4 separate regions of the Homo sapiens genome follow, and all the other regions are linked to region 2. Evidence: fine-mapped expression QTL. A gene starts in region 2. Each other region holds a variant in brackets. All regions are shown on one strand. Distances are from middle to middle.

The links. PIP is the estimated chance that this variant, and not a neighbour inherited with it, causes the effect.
Region 1: its variant is fine-mapped to the expression of RFTN1 in whole blood (TOPMed, PIP above 0.99).
Region 3: its variant is fine-mapped to the expression of RFTN1 in cerebellar hemisphere (GTEx, PIP 0.97). The same link has a PIP of 0.9 or more in cerebellum.
Region 4: its variant is fine-mapped to the expression of RFTN1 in cerebellum (GTEx, PIP 0.99).

What each region holds. Positions count from the first base shown.
Region 1 is chr3:16,543,119-16,548,284 of GRCh38, forward strand. No RefSeq gene overlaps it. Among named protein-coding and RNA genes, the nearest start is that of LINC00690, 9.4 kb to the left of the region's middle. The variant T/C (reference allele first, on the strand shown) is at 2,852.
Region 2 is chr3:16,510,706-16,515,817 of GRCh38, forward strand. RFTN1 (raftlin, lipid raft linker 1) reads right to left here and starts at 2,994. Exons shown (of 10, transcript NM_015150.2): 1 at 2,737-2,994. RefSeq lists enhancers at 1,434-1,843, 2,394-2,473 and silencers at 2,764-3,123, 3,154-3,223, 4,377-4,552.
Region 3 is chr3:16,372,362-16,377,475 of GRCh38, forward strand. The region is part of intron 5 of RFTN1 (raftlin, lipid raft linker 1); the gene reads right to left. Among named protein-coding and RNA genes, the nearest start is that of OXNAD1, 110 kb to the left of the region's middle. RefSeq lists an enhancer at 1,432-1,481. The variant G/A (reference allele first, on the strand shown) is at 2,286.
Region 4 is chr3:16,356,683-16,361,848 of GRCh38, forward strand. It overlaps RFTN1 (raftlin, lipid raft linker 1), which reads right to left. Exons shown (of 10, transcript NM_015150.2): 7 at 1,250-1,365. Among named protein-coding and RNA genes, the nearest start is that of OXNAD1, 94 kb to the left of the region's middle. The variant T/C (reference allele first, on the strand shown) is at 2,957.

The DNA of each region.
Region 1 (5,166 bases), 32 kb after region 2:
TTTTTTTCATAGCAACTACAGGTCAAAAGAAATACCCAGAAAATTTGCTTATGAATTAGTCAGGTCCAAATAATTTAATAATTATTTATGTCCTGAAAACATAGTTGCCACTTCGGGAAAAAATAACACAGACAGACTGAAATAAAAATACATTTACTTTACTTTTAAATGATCATAATTTCTTAATAATGGGAGGTGTGTGCCTGTTGGGCACTGAACAATTACTCAAACCTTGGACTCAAATTGGATACTGCCATTGTCATTTTCTATTTCACATTGACTTTTCACAATGTGTTATTTTTTTTTTTATCATAGCAACCATCTGAAACTCAGATACTAGGCAAAACCATCAAAACTAGTGGTTTTGCACAGTATCTGACAGGTGTTAACGAGTTTCCTTCAAAAATCTAAATTATCTTGCAGCATTCCTATGTGTTCACTGAGGCTCCTCAGAGAGCCTCAGCATGTAGCTTGAGAAGCATGGTGGTACAAGTCGCCATGCTATGTCTAGATATGGATCTGCTGGAGGAGTAATGCCTTCTCACCTCCCTGGCAGCCACTTCCTCTGTCCTTCCCAGGTTCCTGTGTCATGTCAGGAGGACCGAGGGCTGATGATTTGACCAGCAATTTCCCGGCTATCGTTCCTCAGCCAGGAGGAACCAAGCTTCCCCATCCAGTTTGCCTTACTCCAGTGAGAAGCCTGAAGCAAAACCCAACCCATTTAAAAAGTAAAAGCGATAATTTGTAGGCTCCTGCATACATTCTGAAATTACCTACATTCCTCTCATCCTGTGCTCATGGGCATATAACATAGACAAGACTGAAATCTTGTCTGAATTGTGAGGAAAGATCAAGTTTCCCCAGCTCCCAAGCCTGTTCCATCTGAATACCGGAATCTATGTGTAAGTCTTAAATAGCAGAGTGTGGAGGAGAATCCATTCAAATTAGAGTCAAATGTTATGGAGACACCCCAGCCTCCTCCTGGGGAAGCAGATCTGAACCATCACGCATCTCAAGAACTGCTTGGTGGCGAGGTAGTGTCGAGGCAATTCAGTGTGGTGAGTGCCACACGCAGCCTCCACACAAATGGGTGAGAAGCCTAATTGTCTTTGACTAGGACTGAATTTGGTTCCGCTTCAAACCCTTATTCTACTGGATGGTAGAAATGAAATCTCAGGCCATTTAGGCTTTCCCATGATGTTACACAGAACAATATGAAATTGCTGCTATTTGATCTTTTCTAAACTATAAAAACAGCAACTACATATGGCCCAGATGATAATGTATCTCCATCACTCCCAGGGTTTGTGACAGTCATGATCCCAGGGGCCACCTGGTTTCCATCGCCACCCACTGTTGTGCCTCTGAGATGTCCTTGCTGTCCTGTGCTCTCCACCATTGGTCCACGAAGACCTCCTCTGCCCTAGCCCCATCAGCAAGGGCTCCCTGACTGCAGTGAATCCTCTCAGCGATTCCCACATCCCCCTGGGGGGCTGCTGTGAAAGATCTGTGGCAGGAATGAGGCACAGTCCCCTTTCTCAGTGACATTTACCAACAGCCAAATTGTCGTGGTCCCTACGTCTCTCTTCTCTCGCGCTCTCTGGAGTGAGAAGAACCAGCTCTTGCAACTTCATTTACCCTTCCAAGTCAATTGCTTCTGGCATCAACTTAGTACCTGAACTCCTTTAAGGCTCAGGGTTTTAAGCTCCTGCATCTCAAAAGCTTTTGTGTGGGAACAGAAAACATGAGTTTCTCTTCCTATGCCTCAGCATCCCTTCTTTTAGAGAGCGGATACCTCCCAGCATAGTTCCAATGGGAGAAAGCCCTTGGGGTGAAAATAATGAGGAAATCGGGACCCGCACATCACCTTGCTGTGCGGTGGGTGCCTGGCTTATCTTATGCCTGGGTCTTGTCACCCAGGACATAGGTGGAGAGTCCTGACCTCACATTTCCAAGCTGTGCAACCCTGGGCAAGCCTCTGACCTCTCTCCAAACATCAGTTTCCTCAGGCCCTCACAGTAAGGAAACATACTGCCAGCAGGCCCACGGCTCATCCTGTGTGGTTAAATACAGTCAAGCAGAGAGAGAAAAATCTTCCAGATTCAATGAAAATGTAATGATCTCCTGTTGCATTAGGAATAGCAAGACTGGATGGCTTTGTAAAAGCTTAGAGATATTATTTTTGAAGCTATCTGTGTATACTTTATTCCCTTTCATATACCCCTTCTGGCTGACCCAAATGAAAAAAGATACAAAACTCATTTCTGGCCCAGCACTTGCCTGATCAGATGTAATGTGTGGTGATACGCCCATTTTCCCGCTCAGCTGTATTCCTGTTTATTCCTGTGAACACATGGTCTCTGCAATTGGCAATGATTTTTTCTTTGTTGTATTTACCTTCCTTTCGGGGGCCAGCCCAGACTCCTGGGTGGATTCATTTCCCATTGAATTACCAGAAAAGGGCAGAATCTGATTGGAAGAACTACGTGGAAGAAAGCTCAGTTCCCAGGCCCTCACACAAGGGACTCTGTCCTCCCATCTATGTCAGAGCCTGGGGGCTGTGAGGGAATTGAAACGGGACATCCTGTCCCCTCCACCAACATTCTTTCCCCACCAAGCAGTGGCATTTTCTTTTGTGTTCTCACACAATTCAGACTAGGTGGAGTAGCCTGTACGGCATGACTGGAGCGACCCCACTGAGCAGAAGTGTTCCCCTTCTCCTTCACCGACACTGTGGGCTGAGAGAAAGCCCACCTGACAGCCCCCTACTTTGGGGTGTTTCTGCCATGGTCCTTTTAACCAAACACCGCATGTTCTCACTCATAGGTGGGAAATGAACAATGAGAACACA[T/C]GGACACAGGGTGGGGAACATCACACACCAGGGCCTGTGGTGGAGTTGGGGGATGGGGAGGGATAGCATTAGGAGAAATACCTAATGTAAATGATGAGTTAATGGGTGCAGCACACCAACATGGCACATGTTTAATGTAACAAACCTGCACGTTATGCACATGTACCCTAGAACTTAAAGTATAATAAAAAAAAAAATAAAGAAAAAAAGAGGGTGTAGTCAGGGCATGGGTTGAAACACCAAGCAAGTGTAAACCACAGGCTTCACACACTTCGCTTTTGGGGAGGCTGGTCAGCTCCGACCTGCAGCAACTGAGAAAGAACACATAGGGGTCCCTGAGGACAGACAGCTTTGCCAAGGACCAGCCTTAGGGCGTAGGAGAAAAAGAAAGGCCGGAGCAGCCACTTCTCTGTGCCCAGCAGTGCAGCCGCCCGCCTGACAATGCTTCAGCCACGCAGAGACGGGCCTGCCTCCTGTCTGCCCTGTCCTGAGAACGGAGATATCTGTGACCCAGAGGTCCTAGGACCTCCCACTTCCTAAATGTGTGACCCTAGATAAGTCGCTTAACCTCTACCCGAACCTCAATTTCATCATCTGTAAAACAAGAATAATCAACCCACCTACCTCATAGGGTTGTTTTGATGCTTAAATGAGACAAAGCACATGTCTAAGAGTTTTCTGATTCATAAAACAACACATGAATATAAGGATTGTTTTCCTGACTTATCTTAGGATCTTTTGGAAGGGACCTTCAATAAGAGACCTTCAGTAAGTTCTCTATGTTCAACCTCTACTATGCACAATCCTGGACAAAAGGTCATCTACCCTCTGCTTGACTCCTTTCTATTATGGGAAACTTATTACGTTTCTTTGATGAGAAACTCACTACCACAAAGCCTTATGACTTGAACTTGCTCTGGTTAGATCATAGCCACCTCATATAAGCTCCAGAGTAAATGGGAAGGGAGAACTAGACTCTGCCAGCAATAGCAGAAAGATCATCATGTAGATTGGGTTGCTCAGATATTTACAGATATTTGTCAAAAACCTGAAGTCAGTGTCATTCATCTTCCCTTTTGAAGGTTAAGTGTGTTTGTTTTTGTTTCCATGACAAGCCTACATTAAAATTGGATTAGGGGCAATGTTCAGAAAAAATCACAGATGCTCAGGGCAGTGTATTCATTGTGTTTACATGGAGTAAAATGCTTTGTCCCAAGATTATTTTACTTCGTCCATTTAGAAAGGTCTCCTGTGACTTGCATAAATGTGGAAGAAAGCTTCGTCATTTCTTTATAGACAGGATAGTTTGATGACATTTTAAAATATCAGTCATAATAAATTAGGGAGACTCCTAACTTAAATCTGTGCTACGAAGGGCCACTGAGGACAGTGAGGTGTGCCCCCACAGCCAAAAACTTTGTATAGCTTTAATTTCAGTACAGAGGTAAATCGGCTTTTGCTTTTGGATTTAAGATTTGGCAAGCATGTGAAATTAAGTATCACTTAGGGGGATTTTTTTACAGAGGGAAGCTAGGAGATTATGAGTGTTAGGGCTTATAGTTTAAATCTGCAATTAGCATAAATATGCAAAGGTCACCCTAAAGAGATGCATGCCCCTATTATCTGTAGAGGTAGGCGTAAGAAGTGGAGAGAAATGGCAAACAGAGTTTTGCAAACAAATGTGCGGTGGGAATTCAGATTTTCATGTACGTGTTGCATCTGTGGCCTAGAAGAAATCAGACACATGGCCTAGGAGAAATCAAGAGTGAGAAATCACCAGCCCACAGAGGAGATGTCACTGACCTTGAGGCTAACAGAAGTAAATGACAATTGTGGCAACAGCTGTTGGTCACCAACTCAACAGTGATTACCACCTTCTTCTTTGTTAATAGAAAATGATTTCTGTTCAGGAACTGAGCAGCAGATAGTTCTTGGAATCTGGACCCCATTGAAGTTTCAAGGTGTAAACCTTGATCAGTCTGTGTCCAAAATTGTAGTTCTGTTTCCCTTGTTAGTGATGAGTTCAGGATGGGGCATGTGCCACAATTGTAGTCAATGAGAAGTCTGCTGGAGGTACTTCTAGAAGAGTTTTCCTTAATCTCAAAAAAGAAGAAATCACAGAGACTTTCTGTTTCTGTCATTTGGATGTTGCTGGGAGATAATGTGATGCTTGGAGCTGTTGCAGCCATTTTGCAATCATGAGGGAAGAAGCCTGAGGCAAAGGCAACATGCTTAGGGTAGCAGAATAGGAATATCGACAAATCTAGACTCCTATATTAGGTTGAGCTGCTAAACCAATCAATGCCAGTACTGCC
Region 2 (5,112 bases):
AAGGTCTGGCAGTTTCTTTTCAGGTTTCCATATATCTCCTTTTTGACCCAGCAATTTACTACTAGGTGTTTACCCATGAGAAATGAGAACACATGTCCCTACAGAGACTTGTACACAAATGTTCACGGCAGCTTTGTTCACAATAACCAAAGAAAGAAAGAAAGAAACTAGAAGAAAGAAACTAAAATAATCCATGTATCCATTAACAGAATATACAAACAAACTGTGGAGTAAGACATACTCCGGAACATAAGTCAGCAATAAAAAAAGACCAAATCATGGATACGACATGGATGAATCTCAAAAATATGGTGAGCTTTACACAATATTGCAGAATTCCATTTACATGAAGTTCAAGAACAAGCCAAACTCACCTATGATGAGATACAGGGCAGTGGTTGCCACTGAGAGGGTGAGGGCAGAGAATGACTGAGAATGAGGATGAAGGCACCTGCTGGGGTGACAGTAATATTCTCTGTCTTGATAAGGACTAGGGTTACACAGGTGCATGCATCTGTCAAAACATTATGCAAATGGTACTTTCCATCTTTGCACATTTCACTATATGTATATAAATTTTATCTTAAGGAAACCATAAGCACATATTGAAGTCAAAATAATAAAATGTGTACTAAAATGTTTAGGAATGACCTGTACCAACATCTGTAATTTACTTTAAAGTGCATAAAACCATCAGCTGGACTTATGGATGGACACAGGGATGGCTGGATGGTTGGGGGAGGTGTGTAGTTAAGCAAAGATGGCAAAATGTGAATTAGACTCTAGGTGTGTATATTTAGGGGGTCACTGTTCTTGCAACTTTTCTATATCTTAAAAAATGGGATGGGGATAGAGTCACAGTGTCCTCTCCTTAGTCCACCAAGTTAGAAATTTGGCAAAGCACCATGCCCCACCAAGCCATGGGACCACATAGTTTCAATTCTGCTGAAAAGAGAAGACTGGAAGAACATAAGTAGCTTTACAGGAACTCACATCACTCATGCCAAAGATTTTCTGCTTGTTTCCCTACAGACAAAGCAATTATTTGAATGTAAGCCAAAAATTCCTGCTCAAGAGGGAGAAAAAGAACTCACTGACTTGTATTCCCAATTTATTATCTTTCAATTCCTGTACCAAATCTACTAGCTAACTGCACAACACTCCACTTCCATTTGCCCCATGTCCATACAGCCAAAAAGCAAACAAAGAAAAACCAACCCAGTGACTTGATATACAAATGCAGCCAGAGGATGACGTGCCAGCTCTGGGGCTTTGAATCACTCAGGCGGGCCAGAAACCCCACTGAAGGCAAAAGAGGATGCAGAGCTCAGTCTGAGGTTAGAGTGATTTCACTGAGGTTAGCACACACGCACCAAAGAGTCCCAAACAGCTTGCTTCGTAACCCCTCTCTGGGGTTTGGTGACATCTGGGGTCACTTGAACTTCGTTGGGATTCAGCTGTTCAGAGATACAAATTAGGAATCCCGGCAGCAGAGAGGCCCTACCCACAGGCCCAGAGGTCGCTCACATTACACCCGGCTTCCTTCCTGGCAAGGCCTTAACTTATCCTGAGATGACACACGATGGCAGGGGTTGGAAGATGCCTAGTCTAGTTGAGCGCCCAGCTCCTGAAACAGCTGTACCGACTACAAGGGTTCCAGCACATGAGTTGCTGGAAACTGGGGTGACCACTGACAGAGATTGAGCCAGACTTTTTTTTTAAAAAAGTACTTCTTGTTTGTTTGTTTTAAGCCCCCGAAGAAACTCACTGACACCACCCAGCGTCCCTAGGGATCACCCATAACCACACAGGGCAGCTGAGGGCAAGCACAGAGTCACAGACAGACAGCAGGGAGCGTGCCTGGTTCTACAACCTTGGCCTCCACGCGGTTCTTGCTGCCAAAGGCAGCGACACCGGAGGTGAAGGGCACCAGCCCTGGCCTAGGACTGGGGTGCGCGTGCCTGACAACGGGGCTTCCCGAAATACACAACCACCTCCTCCTCGCCCAGACCCATATCCATCCTGGCGTCCCTTGAGTCTAGAGAAGTGGGTTAAGACAAGGGAAGAAAATCCCTTACAGAAGAGGAGATCCCCGTTTTCAGTGCTGGGGACTCTCGGCACCCGCGTCCCTGTGCTTCTGGTGGTTCCGGCGCTTCCTCGGAGCGCGCGGCATGTCTGCTCCTACACGTCCAGCACCTCTGTCCCCAGAGCAAACCCACCTCCCAGGGCACACGCAGAGGGGCAGTCAGGCACCGCCTCCACCCTGCCCCACCCAGGCCGCGCGCACCCCGGAAACCTGGACTCCGCGACCAGCTCCCTCCTGTTCTTTTCCGAGGACCCCAGCGGCAGTGTGTCCTGGACCCACCTGTAGCCTCCAAGCTCCCCCACCTCTGCGTCCTTCCTAGGCGCTTCTGAGCCTGCAGAGCCTACGACCCCCAACAGGCTGCTCCGAAGTGCCTCTCCCTACATCGCTCCAGGAATGACTCCCCTACACCCGTTCCCCGCAAAAAAAAGTTGGCCCAAGATCCAGGCGTCCCAAGGATCAGCCCAGGTCCCCATCCGACGCGGGCCAGGGGGTGCTGCTCTGGCAGCTCCGGAGCCCCGGCAAAGAGCAACCTGCAGGGAGGCGCCACGCGCGGTTCCCACTACCCGCCAGAGACCCGGTCCATGGGGCCAAACGGAGGGGCCTGTGCCGGTCGACACCCCAAGCCCTGTCGCGCCCCCCCCGCCGCCTACCGTATGGGACCGGCGGAGGAGAAGGCGCGGTCGCGGGCTCCCTGAGGCAGCGTGTTCCGTCCCGGGAGGAAAGTTTGTGCCATACAGAGGAGGCGGCGCGGGGAGGACTTGGGCGCCGGTGGGTGGAGGCGTGGGCGGTGGCGCCGCGTGGTCGTGTGTCTGTCCCTCCGGCGATCGGTGCGTCTGTCCCTCGCCGGAGCCCGCGGCCGCCGCGCTCTCGCTCGCTGCGCCCAGCGCCCGGCGCGCTCCGGCTCCAGCCCCGACGCGCCCCCGCCGCCGCCGCCGCGCGTCCGCCGGCTACACTTCCTCTTCCTCTGAACTCATGTGCAAAATATGCTACGCTGCATCTTCAGGGAAAGCCTCGCGGCCCCTGACAGCAGCCGCTGGAGCGGTGGGCCCGCCCAGCTCTCCCCGCGCCCCCTCGGAGTTCCGCCCGGTCACCTCCACGCGGCCGAGCTGCAAGCGACCCTGGCAGCCTCAGAACCCAGGGGTCAGGGGCTCATCGATCCTCCCTCCCAGCCCCTCCTAATCAAGGTTGTGTGCTGTCAGGAAGAGCGCCTGGGAGACAAGGATCCTTCAAGATTTGAGCCAGGATGCTGAAAGGGCGACTGCCATCAAGGTGCTGATGGCTGGGGGTGGGGTTGGGGCCGACTTGAGAGAGGACCATTTCTCGACCCCATTCCACAGGTGGGAGCATCCCTAAACATCTCAGGTGCTGCTGAAATTCTCTCTTGCGAGTTAGTGCTTCAGGGAAGGGTAATGCCACTGTCTCCGTTGCCATCCCTTGGTCTACCTACTTAAGATGTCCAGAGGTTTGAGAAGATCTGGAGAATCACCTTGCGTGGCAACTTGAGGCACCCAGGGAGAAAATTATATAAAGAGTGAAGCACTAGTAAACCAGGCTGCATTAGTAAAGTGAAGATGTGAGGCAAGGAGCCATTAGAAAATATTTTCTTCGTAAAACTAAACCAAGCAGAATTACAGTGTAGGGGTTAAGAGGGGGAACTTTAAAGTCAAATAATCAGGGTTGGATTCCTGGCTTTAGTACTTACTGGCTGTGTGACTTTGGGTAAGTGACTTAACTGCTCTGCGCCTATTTGTCACATGGCACTTCTTCGTGGGTTATTATATGTAAAGTGTTTAGCAACCACTCTATAACTTAGCTATTATCATTATTTTAAGGGGGCTAGAACAAGAAGGGTGAGATAATTTAATTAATTATCTCCATTTTCTAATTGGGCAAAGAAGACCCTGTGTGGGCAAAGTTAAGCACTGGAGCACACAGGGTGGAGGGCTGGTTTAGGGGCCCAGCAGTGTTTCGATGAGGTCCTTCTGGCACTAATAACACTCCTCCAGCAAGTAAGGAAGCACTATTTTGTTTTCAGGGACTCTTCCTGTTACCACAGCTTCTCAGAGATTTTCTTCCTTATTTTCTCTTTCCATAGCCTTTCTAGTTCTGTTTTGCTCCCCCTCCCTCACCACTGTTTTGTTTTTATTTGTTTTTCTCCTTTCCCTTTCCACCCCACCTTTTCCTGGTGTCACACTCACCACCACTATCCCCAGTGTCCCCCATTTCCCCCCTACACTTGAGCTTGCCACATGAAAGAAAATAAGACCAGGTGACCACGTAAGTCCAGGTTCAGACAGTAGTGCGCAGGGACATTTGCTCAGGGGCATCACCAGAGGTTGTGAACACCCATTTATGAAGCCAAAGGGAGGGGTCTTCATGCTATCTATCTGCCCGAGGCCTTGAATTGCTGCAAGTCAGGGTCCATCCAAAATCTTTCTGATCCTTTGCTGGTCACTAGGCCACAGAAAGAAAATAAAATTGATAGGTGTTAACCGGTAGGCATTTAAAAGAAGATAAAGGAAAAAGGAGGGTGGGGGTGGGGGAATGCAGCATAACCTAGTTGCAGTGTGCTTGATTTCTTTTAAGCAAATCATTTTCACTCTATAAAACTTTTGCACACCGTTGTGTTTTTTGTGCTTTTTTTTTTTAAGACACCAGTGCTTGAGGTTAATATGCTATTCTGATTGCTTCCATTTTCTTCCACTCAATATTTTCCCGAGTGCTAATAATCATGGGCAAATGTCTTAAATGACTTTTTTCCCTGCTTGGATCTGCATTTTTGAGGGTTTTCTAGAACTCCTGATCTTCTTGATATTCTGATGCTTCCTACTGGCACATAGTAGGTGTTCAGTAAATATGTGTGGAATGAGTGGATGAGCCAATAGCATGCAGATCTTTCAAGGCTCTTCTTAACCTGCATTCAGCAATTATCCAGGGTGTTCCAATTCTCTTTCACCTGGAATATTTAATGAGGAGCCAAATGTTGGATTCACTTGTGTTCTGTAGAGAGCTGCCTGGATTTTCCA
Region 3 (5,114 bases), 140 kb before region 2:
ACTCCTGAATCATTAATTCCTCAGGGCCCATTCCCGAGAATGGCTGCAGGTAGAGAGGCTAAGGAAGCGGTGGGCTCGGCCAGAGCTGTCCACAGGTGACCCCAACATGGGCCATAGCACCACTCGCTACAGCCTGCTACAGTCAAGCACAAATGCAAATGAATTAAGAAGAAGAAGAAAAAAATCACAGCCTCTGTGTGGGAGAAGTAGGTGGGGAATTTGGAAGTGGCCAAAGTCCAAAACTACATGGTAACACTTGATCACACAGAAGGAACTCCCACTCAATGGCAAGACAGAAACATAACTTTCCCAAATGCGTAATGAACCAGGAAAAGGGGAAGGCCAAAGGAGAAGTGAGAATGCTGGGGGTGTAGCGGAGGAAGACAGAGACCCTCAGAAAAGGTAGACGGTGCTGACAGCTTTCCCGGCTTGATCCTCCCCAGGGGGCCAGACTGAAGCCAGAGACAGAAATAAATTTCTCAGGAAAAGGAAACAGTGTTGGAACGAAGAGCCTCCAAAGCATCAGCAGCAATGAAATATTGGGAGAAACCTGATTGCACATGCATAACCCTTGTACGCTCCTCTGCCCCATCATCTCCTTGTCTCCAGTCCTTTCTCTACCCACATGGAAACCAGCCAAGAGAACTGTCCAAAAGTGATGTCCTTTGATGTTTTAATATTCTGATTCTCCAACACACATCCTCACGTGAGCAAGCACCAAAGATTCCAAAAAGAAGCCCCACGTTTGTTTAAATTTTCTCAGCTGCTCTGTGACTCTGCCATGACCCCAGCTGGAAGATTTTTCCAGACATGGGATGGTAAGTCCCAAAGGGATAGGGAAGGCATTGTTTTTGAGAATGTTCTGGGAGTGGCTGAAGGACTGTACTGGCAGAGCACCCAAGGAGCATTTGGACTGTCTTCTCATCTCTCCCTTTCCCCCACCTTGCCTCATTTAGATCCCTCCTGTTACACGTGTTCACCGTATTGACCTAAGCCAACCAGAGGAGAAAGTGAGGGCAGGTTAAGGGGGCATGGGGCCCAAGGGTGGGGGTGGCTGAGTCCTGCCAGCCTTGGAGCCTGGTCCATTCAGGCCTTGCCAGGCTACTAGGGAGTGGGGAGGAAAGAGGCAGCTGTCCAGCCCTGAGGTCTGTACCTGGGCGTGGGGACTCTGGCACAGGATGGAAGGCTGCAGTTTGCCTGCAGGTGGGGCCCCAGAGAGCCCAGGTCTTGAGGGTAAGCAGGGGACTGGCTGGGCCCTGCTGTCCCAGGAGACCTCTGGTCTGGAGAGAAGAAAGAGTTTAGAGCCTGGGTGAAAATCTGGGGCTCCAAGGGCTAGATGTGGGAGGAGGAGGCAGCTGGTCATTAGCTGCATTGGAAGGAACAAGTGGGCATCACACTTGGCTGGGCAGTCCAAGCTGGGTGGGGACTGCAGGCTGCTGAGGTCATGGGCAGAAGGAACTAAGCAGAAAGGTTTGCATTGGGAAGGGAGGCAGTGGGCACCATGGTGGCGAGGCAGGGCAGGAGGGTAGAAGGGCCCCAGGCTGCTCCATCCAGATGCCTAAATCTGGGCAAGGCTGCTCAAGCTTCGCTAAGGCTTGGGTACTAATAGCAGGTACTAATAGTGAGGCCCGCTTGCCAGGGCAGCAGGAAAGGCAAAGTGCAGGGACCGCTGCTGCGTGCACAACAATCCACAGGACTCCACCTGCAAGCATGACAGCAGCCACAGGCATGTGTCCCATATTTACAAGGGCCTTTCACCTTCACCATCTCATGTGACTCTCCCAAACTTGATGAGAGGGGGTGGCCCTGGTTCTGTGCCCAGAAGTGCTAAGTGGATCCCCCAGAAATCACAAGCCAGTAAGTGGCACAGCCAAGAGTCTTTCAAACCCCAAACCCTGGGCTCTTTCCCAAATCTAACAAGAGGCTAACTTCATCAGGACACAGAAGGCAGGGGCTGATGACCGTGGGTGGGAGCTCAATAGCTGTTTGTTAATGGACTGAGTAAAAGGCCAGAAAGATGGCGGCAGGTGGCAGATCTGGGAGGGGGCCGCATCATGGGGTCCAACTATCCCAAGGGAGTTGGGAGGGAAGGAGCCCTCACATCAGGAAAGCCCAACCCCCAGGTTTTGGCCATTCACAATGAGCTGGCAGCCAGGGAGGGCTACTGAATAAAATCCTCTCAGCCAGAAACATGATTGGCATCACACGCTTGGGTTTCTGGCTGACATTTCTAAGCATTTTAAGTGAGGAGGTGCAGGGTAGGAAGGGCAGTGCTTGGAAGACTT[G/A]TTATTTTGGTGACGGTGAGAATGATTAGAATTTTCGTGAACCTGTCTAGCCTCCTGGTTTCTCTGATGGAAGCTGTGGCAACGGAGACACTGAGGCTGTCCCTGCACAGGCTCAGGTGATCACGGCACAGCACGGACCTCCAACCAAAAGGAAATTCCCCCAGACCAGGAAATAAGTCAGCGAGCAGGAAGAGGAACCCACGGCGGGCCTCCCCAAGAACCTGCAGGGGCAAGGAGGCGTGACGGCTGCACCGAGCCCGCAGAGATGGGGAGGGACGACCTGCCCCTGCTTCCGCATGGAGAATCCACTGGAAAGTCCTGTCTGAGCAGGCATTGCCTAGATTCCTCTCCCCAAGGCCTCCTATAAAGGAAATAAATTAACTGAGGAGAAGGAGGGAAGAGGAGGGAGACTCCCTCTGGATTTTTTTTAATTGTCTTGCTGTGATTGCCTATTTAAGCCCACCTGGCAGAAGAGGAGTAAAAAACACTTCACCCTCCCTTAGGGGGCTCTGAGAGAAGGCAAGCTGGGAGCTGAGCAGGCAGTGGGGAGGGGTGCCTGGGGGGGCCCGTGTGTGCCTGTGGGGGAGTGACAGTGAGTGGGCTTCCTAGGAGAAAGATTAGGAGAGAGGCTGGGGGTCAGGTGAGGGTCACAACCAATAAGGACAGGGTCCCTGGACGTTCAGCCTTCAGGGAGGCCAAATACTCAAGCTGTGATAAAGAAATTTAACTATATGGGGGTATAAAAGGTGACACTCCCTATTTGTAAAATGGATCTAGTAATAGCATCTTCTGCCATAAAGCTGTTGTGAGGAGTTACTGAGATGACACAAGAAGGACACAGAATAGGGCACTTGGAGGGTGACTGCCATCGTGACCACTGAAAGGCTTATATGTGAAATGATCCCTGTATGAAAAACCCAAAAGCTCATCTATTCCATCAAAGGAGGGAAAAGGGATAATAGTGAGCTGCCTAAATTTCAGAGATTCGCAGCCTGAGCAGAGAGATAAAGGGACTGCTTTATGTGTAGAGACAGGCAGTGTTTACCTGCCTAGGGAGACTGGGCTCGAAGGAGGCTTTAATCCCTCCTCCTGGCCTACCCGTGCAGAGCTGAAATTCTCATCCACTGGTGGGCTGACCACCTCCAGAAACACACACATTCACCCATTCCTCCCCAGCAGGGTCTGTTTCTCCAGGAGAGAACAGGGACTTGGGTGATGGGATAGGGGCCAAGATGCTTTGGGTGTCAATTTTTCTGTGTTCAGCCATCAGGGGAGATTCTGGGTGAGGAAGGTGAGTGGCCACGGGGTAGCAAGAAGGTCCTGGGCACCTGCGGAAGTTCCTTGGACAAGTTTCCCCAGTGAATAATCCTCTCACAGGAGGCAGGAAGTCTGGAAGGAGTATCGGAGGAAGGTGGGCTCTGGAACACAGGAAGCATCTGAAAGCTACTGAGGAAACCTCAATAGTAACTGCCTCCTTTCTCAAAGCCAGGATTCCATGAGAGGTGGAGGTCGAGTGTCAGGACTACTGAGCCTGTACCCCAATAATAGCAGCTCATACTCATGAGTCAAACAGTGCCGAGTGCTTTAAATGTACAACTTTAACCTTTCCATGAGAAACTATCGTTCTATCCCCATTTCAAAGGGTGAGAAACTGAGGCACGGAAGGCAGGCCGGAATGTATACTCTAGATTCTTGAGCACCATGCTCCTCACCTCTCCATCACTCCTGCCCTTTCTCCTGGGGGCCTCTGCCTGGCCTGACTCTCGCCCTCCCACAGTCCTGGACCGTACAGAAGGACTCCAGTGAGGTCCATCTTCCTGCCCAGGATTCAGAGCACACACATCCAGCCCAGCCTCCATGAGAAGATGGAGGTTTCTGGACTAAGACCTGGGCGTTCATGAGGACGACACACTGGGCTTAAATGCATGCTCAGCTACTTCATGAGGGCAGCAGGCATGTGCCTCAAACAGCGAAAAATCACACAGATGAAGGGCTCTACTTCAGTGCATACTAAGAAGGCTCAATGCCTTGATTAAACAATAGTCTTACTACATCACAAAACTGACGCAGCTCCAATATCTCCCTCTAAATCAACTTTGCAAATAAGCCCCTGGAATTAACCATCCCATAATTTTCCTCTCAAGAAGTTCTGATGTAACAAAAGAAACTGTTTCTCCTTGTTTTCCCTTCTGGAAGCACCACCTGTTCATTATCACTTGTAAGAGGCTAAATTCAAGAATTCGTAAATAAATGGTAATAACAATATTAACCAGGGAGATCATCCAGAAAGGCCTAAACAGAAAGCCCTCCTAAGCCCTGGGGGTCTTCTGTTAGTTTTCATACTTGTTCTTACTTACATGGCTTATGTAAGTACCTTGCTCTCAGGAAATGACCAGATGCTAGATTTCCTGGAGAAAGGGGGAAATATGGATGGTTGATTTCCTGAAGAAAGTAGAGAAAAAGGAAATACAGAGAAACGGAGGGAAACTTTGCTCCCTGTAAATCTTATTAAGGGCCTCGGCAAATCTTGTTAGTCTATCACACAGGAAAGACCAAGCAGAGAGGCGTGAAGGGATGGTGGGTAAGTCCACCTGGGTTCATATGCCCGAACTGCCTATTTCCAGACTGGGCAACAAATTTCCTCTCTAAACCCCAGTTTGCTCAGCTGTAAAATGTCTTGCTTTAGGCAAGTATTTTAACAGGTGGTGTGTAGGTTTTCATCGGTGCCTGGCAGGCTGACACTTCCTGTGTGAAAACTGGATAATTCAAGGGCAATTTCGAGAGCACAGGAGATAAAAGAGCTCACAGTCTAGAATCCACTTCAAACGT
Region 4 (5,166 bases), 150 kb before region 2:
TAGAGGGTCCCAGTGCCCCACACTCCTCACAAAGGGTTGTATCCACCTCTGTCTTCCCTCGGCCTGGAGAGCCCTCTTTGGCAGAGGCCCTCCCAGCAATGCCAATCCTGTGTTCTTCCAAAGCATTCAGAAAGCAGTTCTCTATGTCCATGGCTGGGCACGGTGGCTCACGCTGTAATCCCAGCACTTCAACAGGCCAAGGCAGGCAGATCACTTGAGGTCAGGAGTTTGAGACCAGCCTGGCCAACGTGGTGAAACCCTGTCTTTACTAAAAATACAAAAATTAGCTGGGTGTGGTGGCGGGTGCCTGTAGTCCCAGCTACTCTGGAGGCTGAGGCAGGAGAATCGCTTGAACCCAGGAGGCAGAGGTTGCAGTGAGCCAAGATCGCGCCACTGCACTCCAGCCTGGGCGACAGAGCAAGATGCCATCTCAAAAAAAAAAAAAACAAAAAAACAAACAAACAAACAAACAAAAAAAACCAAGAATTCAGTTCTCTATGTCCAAATAGCTTCTCCCTTTATATCCCAGACACTGTGTGTACAAGAGACTAGGCTAAAAAGTCCATGCTTCCGCAGTTAGAGAAATGCCCTTCAGCTACCCACTAGTGAATCTTGGAAGTAAATTAGCTCCTCCAAAGTCCCAGCAGAACGTGGTTTGAGGAATTCCCCTTCCCACAGCAATTTGGTGGCCTCATGAGTCAACATTTCTCAAAGACATTCTTCAGTATTTAATGTGTAATCTTGGACCAGGGACCTAACCTCTCTGTGCCTCAGTTTCCTCATCTATATAATGGGCAATAACAGTATTTACTTAAAAGGCTTATTGTGCAGATTAAGTGAGCTCATGTGCATAACTCTAAGGATAGCTGCAGAGGGAGCCACAGGGTCTGGCTCCAATATTGATGCTGCTCTGAGTATTAACGGAGGCCACAAACTATGTGGCCTCATTTATATCACTTAGAGTTGTCAGTTATATGCAAATTAATGGAAGACAACTCTCCTTCCACCAAATGGCCAGGCACATGCAATGTGCTTTTCTTGCAGAAAGGGAAGAGCGGGGCCCACCCCTACCTGGGGGTGGGAAAAGAGGGGAATGAAAAGACTAAGGGGATCCTTCTAGGACCTACCAGGTCAACTCCCTCTCAGAAGAAAGCCACAGCTGAGCCACAGCCCCACGGTCAGATCAAGCAGGCGGATAAAACAAGTGCTGTCTAAACAAAAGAAGCGGGGCTGCCAACCCCACACTTACTTCCAGGACTGTCCATTGTTCAACCACAATAGCATCATAGCCCTGTATGGTTTTGCTATCTTCTGTGGAAACAGCTTCAAAGATGAATACTCCATCTGTCAAGCCATGTAAGGAATCTGTGGAAAAAGAAAAAGGCGGGGGTGGGGGGGGTCTGTAAACCGTCTGTGGCAGAAGTCTTCTAAGCAGCAAACATTTCCACTGCATTCATTAATAATCCCAATCAGAACATCTTTTCAGCATGTTAATTAAAGAAGGCACACACAAGCCATAGAGTCTATCTAGCCCTATCAGAATGAATGAGGCTAATTTACCTCACAGTTTTGAATAATATCCTTGATTTTATGAGCCCAAATTTCATTGTTAGCAATCACCATTTGATTTCACACGTTTACCTTCCTTTTCATGCTCCAGCGTCAGGATGCACTGGGGAGAACTTATCCAGGGTAAAACACAGTCATTTAGAGACAGTTTTTAGAAGCAAACTATATTTAGGTGAGGGTTTTTTTTTTCTTTTTTCTTTTTTTTTAAAGGGAAGAGATATAACACACCAGATCTGAGCTTGTCAGATGCGTTGATTTTTGGAAGTTCACATGATGTGGGCTGCAGTCCAGACAACATCTTAGGCAGCTCTTGTCAAGAGGTGGAATGTGGGGGAGAGGGAATTTTCCCAAATAATTTACCACTGGAAATGTTTCCCTGGGTGCTGCTCTAGTCAATGTACCAGGTTCTGAGCTCTGCACAATTCGACAAGTATACATGAAATGTATAGCATGATCAAGAACTATCTTAGGCAATGAGGGTAAAAAGAAATATAGAACAGGCCAGGCGCAGTGGCTCACACCTGTAATCCCAGCACTTTGGGAGCCAAGGCAGGAGGATTCACTGAGCTCAGGAGTTCGAGACCAGCCTGGGCAACACAATGAAACTCTATCTATACTAAAATACAAAAAATTAGCTGGGCGTGGCAGGGTATGGCTGTAATCCCAGCTACTTGGGAGGCTGAGGCAGGAGAATCGCTTGAACCGGGGAGGTGGAGGTTGCAGTGAGCCGAGATAGCACCACTGTACTTCAGCCTGGGTGACAGAGCGAGATTCTGTCTCCAAAAAAAAAAAAAAAAAAAAGAAATACTGAACAGAGTCCTTGACCCTATAGAATACACTAAGGGAAGCACCTTTTGCCCCTTTGTTTGGGGCATGGCTCCTAAATGTCCTAGGTTCATTTTGATAAGGGATTTGGGGGAAGAAGACTGACTTAGAAGCAAGTGGTTTGAAGCTAGGCTCTATCATGAAAGGTGATGTGACTCTTTCAAGGGCTAGGTCTCTCATCTATGGGATTATGGACAATCTCTCTTGGTTCCCAGACTTGATGCTATAAACACTGCTCAATCATAATATTATGGACTGAATTGTTTCCTCCCAAAATTCGTATGTTGAAGCCCTAACCCACAATGTGACTATATTTGGAGACAGAGCCTTTAGGAAGGTAATTAAGGTTAAATGAGGTCCTAGTCCTCCTTTAACTAGGGTAGGATGGGGCCTTAGTCTAATAGGACTGGTGTCCTTATTAGAAGAGGAAGAGAAACCAGAGCCCTCTCTCTCCCTTTCCTGGCGTGTGTAAAGAGGAAAAGCCACGTGAGGACACAGCAGGAAGGTGGCTGTCTGCAAGCCAGGAAGAGAGCCCTAGCCAGAAACTGAAGTTGTGGGAACC[T/C]TGACCATGGACTTCTATCCTCCAGAACTGAGAGAAAATAAGTGTCTGTTGTTTAAGCCACGCAGTGTGTGGTATTTTGTTATGACAGTCCTAGTAAACATACAAACAAAGCGCATTTCAATGATACGCTCTTTTAAAAGGACAATTTTTAATAGGGCAAATCCATAATAATGTGACCTTTTTTTTTTCATGGGGAGGGAAGGGAGACAAATTCAGAAAGTCCCCTGAATCATGCTGGAGTTCCTGGAACTGCCAGTATTTTCTAGAAGTCACAAAGAAAAAGACTGACAAATGTGAATATATAACAATCTTTAGCTTTGGCTCCCAAGAGACCCCATAAACAAAAGGTCATCAGCATGAGAAAATTATTTGCAACAACAATAACAAAAATAAAGGCTAAGCTTAATATTTTTATATATAAAAAGCTTTTATAGTTAAAAATACTGAAACACCATTAGAAACAAAGGACATAAAGCAATTAATTAATTCTCTTTATCTTTCCATGGCCAGTAAACATTGAAAAAAATTGCAGTTTCTTTTTTTTTTTGTTTGAGGTAGGGTCTCACTCTGTCTCTTAGACTGGAGTGCCATGGCACAATCACGGCTCACTGCAGCCTCAACCTCCTGGGCTCAAGTGATCCTCCCACCACAGCCTCCCGAGTAGCTGGGACCACAGGCACATGCCACCACCCCAGCTAATTTTTTATTATTTGTAGAGATGCGGTCTCACTATGTTTCTCAGGCTAGTTTCGGACTGCTGGACTCCCAAAGTGCTGGAATTACAGGCAAGAGCCACCGTTCCAGGCCTCAACTTCTTTTTTATTTAGCAAGGTGACAAATTTTGAAAAGAAAATTTTCACTGCTGGTAAAGGTATGGTGATATGCAAAAGTTTACAGTGCTTAAGGGAATTTTAACTGTACAATCTTTATAGAAAGCAATTTAACAATGTTGCAGGAGCTTGCCACAAAAAGTCCACCCTCTTTCACCCAGAAATCTTACCTTTCTTGTCTATCATGAGGTAATAACCTCCAATGCCATCAAATACCCATCTACAAGCATTACTTATAAAATTACTTAAAAACTTAATCTAAATGTTCAACAATCCAAATATTTAACCATAGAAAAATAGTTAAATTTGGAGATTTCTATAAAATACTAGCCTGTCCCTAAAAATATTATGGGAATTTAATGATTTGGAAAAATGCTTTAGATACAATATTATGGAGAAAAAACTAGGATATAAAACTGCCACATGAGCTCAATATGGATTTTTATGTTAAAATGGTTTAGACAAACTTTAAGGAAATACACAAAATGCTAGCAGCAGTTATAAGTGGTAGAATTACATATAATTTGAGTTTTCTTTTATATCCTTTTCTGTGAGGTTATTAACAAGTTAATACAGGTATAACACAAGTAAATGGACAACACAAATGACAAAGAATTTCCTTTTTCTCTCCTCTACAAGGCTCTTGAAGGCCTAACTAGAATCAAAGAGTTTTTTAAAACTATGGGGAGATGATTTTAGTGTAATCTAAATAGAAAAACTTCCCTTAGAGGAGTCTAAAAATGGCATATAGGGCCTCAGAAGGGTGAGTGACATGTTACTGGAGTTCAAGTGCACTGAATAACCTTCCAGCCATTCATTATGACACCTACTGGGAATCTATTATGTGCCAAGTAGTCCTGTAGTCACTAGAGATCTCACAAGCAGCAAGATAAAGTCCCTGCCTACATGAAGCTTACCTTGCAGTGGAGGAGGAAGACAATAACATCATGTCAGAGGTGATACATGCTAGAAAAATACTAAGTGGGCCAAGGGGAGAGTGTGAAGGTGGACACAGTGGTGGTGGCTATTTTTGAAAGAGGCATCAGGGTAGGGCTCCCCACTTCGAGTGAACTAAGCAAGCAAGGAACATGGATCTGCAGGGTTTGAGAGTTCCAGGAGGAAGGGACAGCCAGCCTGACATGCAGAGTGAACGAAGGACAGCCAAGGACCAGGTGAGCAGCAGAATCAGGAGAGAAGGTGGTTAAGACTAAATTGACTGGTGGGGAGGCCAGCCACTTAGGGCTCTGTTCATCTGACTTGCTTGGCCAATGGGATATTAGCAGGTGTAATGCAAGCAGAGACATAAAAAGCACGTGTGTGGTTGAACTTGGCCTCTTGTGTCTTGGCCATTACATTGAGAGGGCATGCCCCAGTTAGCCA